Regions from separate parts of the Homo sapiens genome. Here regions 2 and 3 are each linked to region 1. The links come from fine-mapping of genetic effects on gene expression. A gene starts in region 1. Each other region holds a variant in brackets. All regions are shown on one strand. Distances are from middle to middle. Region 1 holds the start of EYA1 (EYA transcriptional coactivator and phosphatase 1). Region 2 has its middle 220 kb from the start of EYA1. Region 3 overlaps EYA1 (EYA transcriptional coactivator and phosphatase 1).

The links.
Region 2: its variant is fine-mapped to the expression of EYA1 in subcutaneous fat (TwinsUK, PIP 0.95).
Region 3: its variant is fine-mapped to the expression of EYA1 in anterior cingulate cortex (GTEx, PIP above 0.99). The same link has a PIP of 0.9 or more in cerebral cortex.

Annotation. Positions count from the first base shown.
Region 1 is chr8:71,360,982-71,363,748 of GRCh38, forward strand. It overlaps EYA1 (EYA transcriptional coactivator and phosphatase 1), which reads right to left and starts at 1,088. Exons shown (of 18, transcript NM_000503.6): 1 at 666-1,088. RefSeq lists enhancers at 495-1,016, 769-878.
Region 2 is chr8:71,578,079-71,580,845 of GRCh38, forward strand. No RefSeq gene overlaps it. Among named protein-coding and RNA genes, the nearest start is that of EYA1, 220 kb to the left of the region's middle. The variant C/CTT (reference allele first, on the strand shown) is at 1,139.
Region 3 is chr8:71,260,213-71,262,979 of GRCh38, forward strand. All of the region lies in intron 11 of EYA1 (EYA transcriptional coactivator and phosphatase 1), which reads right to left. Among named protein-coding and RNA genes, the nearest start is that of EYA1, 100 kb to the right of the region's middle. The variant T/C (reference allele first, on the strand shown) is at 1,542.

The DNA of each region.
Region 1 (2,767 bases):
ACAGATCTTGTTTTAAACTTCAAGGTCCACTCAAGCCTTACAAAGTGTCAATAAGAGAAAAATATATTAATTGGGTAAATGTTTGTTATATCACCTTCTGAAGATAAGTTTGTTTAATATAACGTTTGGGAAATTTATTAAAGCAAAAATATTTTCTTCCTTAAAAAGTGCTATCAATTTAATGTTGTTATCTGTTGTCCTTTCAAATGTTAAATGCTTCATTTTTTTCATATCAAAGTGTGTAAAAGTTACTTATGTATTGCAATGAACATATATGTACCGCTTTATTCAATACCACACAAATATATTTGAGATTTGTGCAGCAATTCAGAAAAGAGATATGAAGTCATCTCCCTGCAAGAATATGGTCCTGCATTACATTTATCTAGAGCATAACAAAAGTAATTGTTAACAATTAATTTGTAATTATTTCTTAATGATCCTGATCGCTCATAATTTGGAGGTTGGGAATTCTACTTCTAGGATGAAACCCTGTGGCTCATAAAGTACTAGGTACAAAGTGTCATAATTTTCCCCATGCCATAATGTTTTTCTTTGAAAACAAATCAAAACAATAATAAAAGCGCTCCTGTTAGCTTGGGCTTTGCCCACAGGACAGCTGTTGTCAGTCACTACAATTTTTCAAACAGTCAGCTTGTACTTACAGCGCTTACATCTGCTGCATCCACCAGTTTAATGTGTTCCTTCGAATTTTCTGGGTTAGCAAACCTCCATTCCTGACATAGTTTTGCTCCTGGATGGGTACGCGCGGGGGCTCTCAGGCGCTCTGGTGCAGCCGCGGCGCTTCTGGGAGTGGAGCGCCTCTGCAGGGGAAAGCTCGGCGCAGGGGGCAGGCGCCTGGCCGCTGCCGCAGGCTCGGGCTGCCGAGCGACTGAGCGAAAACGTGTTCCCCAGGAAGAAACCCGCCACAGTGGACGGCAACAGGAAGGCTTAAAGTCGGAAGTGGCACTGGAGAGTTTCTACCTCGCCCCAAACTCGGAGCCATCAGCTCCCACCGTTCTGTTTGGTAACAGCTTTGCGCCCAGCGCTCCTTCCCCACCAAACAGCAGCGGCAGATAGCATCTGAGAACCCTAGACAAAGAAACAGCAGAATCTCATCCCTCGATTTGTTTGCGCAGCCTTGTAGGTCTGCCCATGGAGCCTCGGGGCTTTCTTTTTTTTTTTTTTTTTTTTTTTTTGGTTTTTGCAACGCAAACCACAGCTATTCTCTTGTCCTAACCTTATTGGTTTAAATGCAACAATTGAAAGGAGCACTGCTCTGTCTGACTCAACCTTGCTGTTTAAAAAAAAAAAAATTATGTAAATGAACGCGCCCCACGCTATCTGAATAAACAGCTGTGTGAGAATAACTTCTCTGAGACGTGGTCAACACACACGCGTCCTCTTGCAACAGTAGTTACCAATTAAGATCTTTGGGGAGTAGTTACACGTTATCTTTTACACTTTTCCTAAACTTTTTTCAGGCCCTGAAACTTAGGGAATCCACTACTTTTCATAATTTATTTCCTAACTAACGTACCTACTACTGAAACAGGTCTGGGGGAAATAAAAAACTAGAATGGCCATTTCCCTTTAAGTAGAAAATGAAAAAGCAAACGTGCAAGCTTTTATCAGTTTAATAATGAAAGCCTGAAGGATGAATCCGAAATGATTTCTAGAATGGCAAATCTTCTGTGAACAATTCCTTGGCTATGAACCAGATAATGTTTCAGTGTTAATATTTTTAAATGGTTTTTGGAAAAGATTCATGTTATCTAGAACTCTTTCTTTACAGCTTATTCTTTTAAAAAAAAATTCTTACTGACCTCGGAATCTATGCATGACAGTCTATAACACTCACCTAAAGAGCTGAGCTTCAGTTAAGATATGTTTTATACAGATACATGACTTTGGTGATAAGACTTAACCATTATGTTGATTTCAAATATTCAAAGAAGGCATCGTTTATGTGACTAATGATTGTATCTCAATTTGCCAGACCTGTGCCAACATTCAAATACAAATGTTTATTTTGATACTAGTCACTCGTTGTAACCAATTTTGTGCTCTAAAATAAAATCTTTAAGCCCATCGGATTTTTCTTAAAACTGTTTTGTCATCACCCATAGAATACTATTCTGCTGATTAGGTCTTTTATTTAAGGAAAAAAAAAGCGTCCTCATTTTTTAGGCGCTTGATAGATGTGAAAAAAATTTTAAAAATCACAATAACTTTTTGCATGACTTTATAATACATTTCCAGATCGTCAACTAATAAAACACATAGACACAATCATAACTTTATATTGCTAATATGTAAATGAAAGCACCATTCCGATGCAAACAAAAAATAAAAAGCTGCTAATGACCAAAATTTATTACAGACTTCCCCCCAACCACCGAAAGTATGCCAATCTGAATTCCTCAGAAAAGAACACTTTGTCAAACATAAACGACAGTTTAAACTGCAAACTCACCTAGGATTTCATTTTGTATAGTACCAGCAAGGAATCATGGGCTAGTCATCTACCATATTTGGGAAGCCAGGTCAAAACACAGTTGATTGCTATTGGATCTGTTCATATATGCAGCAGAAATAGAATTATGTTACCACCTACTGCACTTTCTCAGACCAGAAGTATCAGTTATTCAATATACTAAAGTATATATGCAGAAAATAAAATACAGCTTGTAATGGAGATTTCTAGCATTGTCAGATAAAATGTAATGTTGTGGTAATTCAATCTGATATCAAACAGTAAATACTT
Region 2 (2,767 bases), 220 kb after region 1:
CCTTTTTATAGCTCTTCTTTTTTCAGTACTCTGTTTTATAGACACTAGCAACTTATGCTTCCTTCAAGATTTTCACAATTCATAACTACTACCTTGTTCTCCCTGGGTACTTTCTCTGGGTACTAGAGCCTGGAAACTTTTTCTACTTAGTAATCTGGGGCAATTATAGAGCTTACCTCACTGGTTTCTTGCCCATCAGGGATCACTGTCCTTAGCTTTTACATGTCCAATATCTTTATAACTATTTTTTCATATATTTTGTCAGTTGTGTCAGGTGAGAGGATAAAACTGGTCCCTATTACAAAATTGTGAAGTTTGGTTCCTGTTACAATTTTGGCTGAAAGTATAAGTCTAACAATAGATTTTGATGAGTCAAAAGGACATATTATAATTTATAGTATGAGAATAAAATATCAAGAAAACTTTTAATTTCCAAACCAATAAAGCTGAAAATGGAATTTAAAAAATTAGCCTAAAATAAGGCAAGAATAGAGTGAAAAAGTAACAAAGAACAGGCAAAACAAATAGAAAGACATACTAAAATGGTAGATTTAATACAATACATTAGTAACTACATTAAAATTAAATTTACTAAATTATTCAATCAAAAGACATTAATACTGAATTAAACAAAAACTCATTATGTGCTGTTTTCATTTTTCTTCTCTTTTTTGAGATACAGTCTTGCTCTCTCACCCAGGCTGTAGTGCAGTGGCACGATCTCAGCTCATTGCAACCTCTGCCTTCTGAGTTCAAGCAATTTTTGTGCCTTAGCCCAATGAGTAGCTGGGATTACAGGAGTGCACCACCACACCAGGCTAATTTTTGTATTTTCAGTAGAGATAAGGTTTCGCCATGTTGCCCAGGCTGGTCTCAAACTCCTGGCCTGAAGTGATTTGCCTGCCTTGGCCTCCCAAAGTGCTGGGATTACAGGCATGAGCCACTTTGCGCAGCCATGTGCTGTTTTCAAAAGTAGTAACTATTACACAAGCTTACAGAAAGTTTGAAAATTAAATAATGGAAAAAATATATGCCCTGTTGAGCTAAAAACAACTGGTGAAGCTATATTAATATTAAACAAATTAAAAGCATAGAATGTAAGGAAAATATTACTAGAGATGAATCATTTCTTGATATT[C/CTT]TTTTTTTTTTTTTTTTTTTTTTGAGACAGTCTCGCTCTGTCACCAAGGCTGGAGTGCAGTGGGACGATCTTGGCTCACTGCACCCTCTGCCTCCCAGGTTCAAGCGATTCTCCTGCCTCAGTCTTTTGAGTAGCTGGGACTACAGGCATGCACCACCACACTTGGCTAATTTTTTTTTTGTATTTTTACTAGAGACAGGGTTTCACCATACTGGTCAGGCTGGTCTCAATCTCCTGACCTCAAATGATCCATCCGCCTCGGCCTCCCAAAGTGCTGGGATTACAGGCATGAGCCACCGTGCCCAGCCGATCTTCTTAATAGGAATATATAATTACAAATTTTTAAGTGTCCAATAAGGTTGTCTCAATACAGCAGAAATTAAGCCATGAAGCAAGAAGTCCATAGAAGGCATACTGTATAAGTTCATGACCACAATACAATTAAAAATACAATTTTTATTACTAATAGAAATTAGTAATAAAACAATATCTAGAAAATTCTCCTATGTTTAGAAAATAGATAATACATCACTAAATAACCCACGTGTAAAAACAAATCATAAAGGAAATTAGAAAATATTTTGAACAGAATAGTAATGAATATACAATACTTTCACACTGATAGGAAAATTGATATCCTTAAATGCGTATATAAGACAAGAACCAAGGTTGAAAGTTAATGAGTTAACCTTTTATCTCTGGTAGTTAGAAAAAGAATTCCAACTCAATAAAAAAAAAAGAGAGAGAGAGAAGCAAATAATGAAGACATAACGTTACTGAAACAGCTGTGTTTTTTTAAAAAAAAACAAAAACAAAAACAAAAACCCCACAGTTATTGGATAAATTAATTCTGTCTTCTTGAAATTTCAACAACAGCTAAAGAAACAAACAAACAAAATAAAAAACCTGGCCAGACAGAATGGCTCATGCCTGTAATCCCAGCACTTTGCGAGGCCAAGATGGGTGGTTTGCTTGAGCCCAGGAGTTTGAGCTCAACCTGGGCAACATGGCAAAACCTCATCTCTACAAAAACTACAAAAATTAGCCAGACATAATGGTGCACACACCTGTGGCTGCAGCTACTTGAGAGGTTGAGGCAGAGAATTGCCGCTTGAGCCTGGTAAGTGGAGGCTGCAATGAGCTCTGATTGCACCACTGTACTCCAGCCTTGGCAACAGAGCAAGACTCTGTCTCAAAAAAATAAATAAATAAAAATTTAAAATTTAAAATTTAAAAATAACAAAATACAAAACTCTCTGGGACTAGTTGGATCTCTGGAAAACTCTACTAAACATAAAAGGAAGAACAAACTTTTTCAGAGAATTGAAAAAAAGAGAACACTCCTTAACTTATTTTTATAAGACCAGCATAATCCTAATATTCAAAGCTATTATAGGAAAATAATAATTTAGGCTGATATTACTCATGAGGATAGATGCAAAAATTCTAAACAAAATACATACAAGTGGCCGAGGGCTGTGGCTCATGCCTGTAATCCCAGCACTTTGGGAGACCAAAGCAGGCAGAATACGAGGTCAAGAGTTTGAGACCAGCCTGACCAACATGGTGAAACTCCATCTCTACTAAAAATACAAAAATTAGGTGGGCGTGGTGGTGCATGCCTGTAAT
Region 3 (2,767 bases), 100 kb before region 1:
ATAATATAAATTGTCTAATTTAAATGCTTTAAGTCAACATTTAAGAACTATTTTAATGGCTAAGTCATTGTTCCAATTTTAAGTAGCTTCAGCATTCTGACTTGGTCTCTACAAAGTACTTATGGTGTTCTTACTAAAAATAAAAAGGAAAGGGAATTATTTTGCCTTTTAATTCTTATCCTATTATTTTCAATTTATAAGTACATTAAATACATAATGTATGTCTTTTGTATCTCTCCTCTCTGAATATGTACCTACTTATATCCATGAGATGATACTCTACACAAACTCCTAGCAATTGCTATTCTACTTTGAATCACAAAGAATATATTATCTTTAAAAAAGTGCTATTTAAATAATTAATCTTGAGACAGGAGTTATCAGAAGACAGTGCAACTATTTCAGAAAGCATGACTAGTTCCTCAGGATATGCTACCTACATTTTGAATTTCTGGAATAAAAGAAAATAAGGTTCCTAAACTCTCTCTGTACTAATCCTACATGGGCAGCTAAGCCTCCCTGGCAAGCAATTACTGGGAGTTGTGGTAGCCCAGTGAGGTGTGTTGCTAACAATGTGAGCAGGTTTATGAGATTTATTCGTCCATGTGAAAATCTTGTTAAGTATGCTCAAATCAAGGACAAATCTTTGGGCAGTATCAATCAAAAGAAAGAAAAATACTCATTCAGTGCACCTTAAACAATTCCTTACTTAGAATGCTAATATTACAGCCACAAACAGGACCTGAATGTCATTTAAAAATTCTCCCCATCCAAGATCTTTTGTTTTGGGGGAAAATAAGCTGAAAAACAGGAATGAGCACTCTGAATACATGAGTGGTTTATTTTTAAGACCCCATGCTGGCTGCCCACAAGGAAAGGATTAAGGTTAAGCTTTGAAAATTAGCTTCCTATCTTGAAAGGAAAAACTATGCTGAAACATTGTTTTTTTAAAAAATAAAAAATAAAAAACACATAAACACATAACCAAAAGTGTTATCCAAATGATCTGTACAACTTACGAGACCCAAAGGTTCCATTATTGTGTTTTCTCCTGTCTAAAGGGAGCAATATCATCAATAAAATATTAACTTTTTTCAAGGTTTAAGGCCCTATCACTGGGCTACTTAGATATGAAATATCAGATTTTGGGAGTTGGATGTGATTCTCTTGCCAATTAAGAAATAATACAGATTACCAAGAGAGACTGTATACACATAAAAAATAAACCATGGTTAAACTACTGCCTGAATGATCTGGAAAAACACCCCCAAAACCCTCAAACTTGTGGTGGGGCTAATCAGGTCATTTTTACTGATTAGATACGTGACACTCGATTGTGTTAATTTTCTCCTTACTTAAGAGACTCCCTTTCAACACCATGAAAATAATACTCAAGTAGAGAATAAGAGAAAGAACTTCAACATTCCAAAGACTAATTTTGACTGTGGAGAAAACCCAGTGAATCTCAAACATGGGCCAACTGCCAAGAAGTGGTACAAAGAGGGAGGAAGAAGAATAAAGCCAGCATGGACCTGGCCAAA[T/C]TGGCTTCAACACCAAGGGGCCCATGGGGTGCTAAGGGAAAGGCTAAACAGCTAAATCCAGTCGAAAGACCTATCAGGATTTCATTTGTAATGACTCTCCTACCTCCCTCCTTCCTACAGAGTGTTCCAGCCACTTTTTAGGCCTTTATTATTTTCTACCAGAGGACTGCACAATAGTTTTCCTTGCTATTAAATCGGTCTTCCAAATGTACACTTCCAGCATGTCCCTCCATTGCCATCATGTTCTTCCATCATGTCCCTAATTCATGGCATTCCCATGCCCACAGAACGAAATCCTGGCACTCAATGCTCTCTCTAAGCCTGGGTCAATTACAAGACTGGTGTTGCCAGTTGATGGATCTGCCTTTTGGACAGATAATTTAATTTTTCTGAGCTACACTTTTCTTATTGGCAAAAAGAAGGAGTTCATTGGATAATAAGTGTGAGATAGCAGTGTAAACCATAAAAGTTGAACAAAGATGCAGTCTTTTTATTACTGATCCAACACATTTTCTGCTACTATTCTTCTTCAAGTCTAATCCCCTAAATATACTTTATCACTATTTACCCTTTTTGCTTATGATTTCTGCCACTTGTAATTCTCTGTTTCCCACTCCCTCTTTGCTGCCTGGAATAACAAAGTCTGCATGGTTTCCTGCTTCCTCCTCTGAACCCCCAAAGTAAGCAATAAATAATAGCTCTTGTTCATGAAGTACTTATGAGTATTTTTCTAGGTGGTTCACATTGTTCCCCTAACAGCCCTGTAATTGCTCCCATTTTATAGGCTGCTTTTTCCAAGGCCACAGAGCAAGGGAGGTCCAAAGTTGCAGGTGGCAGGCCAGTGCAGTGGTTAAGGAGCTGTGATGATTCCTGTTCATTCACTGCATTCCCTTTTATATTCATGAACAAGAACAGTAAGGCTGTGTTCCATTAAACAGCAAGAATGTACATTTCCGCTGTATACTACTGGTAGTGAGGCAGAGGGGCTGCCTGTTAAAGGAAAAGAGAGAAACCTTCAAGATATGGCCAGAAGAGAGATGAAGCATGCCTGTTTGGCTGGCATTTGAAAAAATGTGCTTCTGTTTGTTTTGAGAGTTTAGATTCTATGTCACTCTACAGCATAAAGAGGTTTCATATATAGACACATATATTATTTCATCCTTTTTATCTAATTTGGCATTGATATACAAGGAAGAAAATAAAATCAGGGCTCTGTCCTTTGGGAT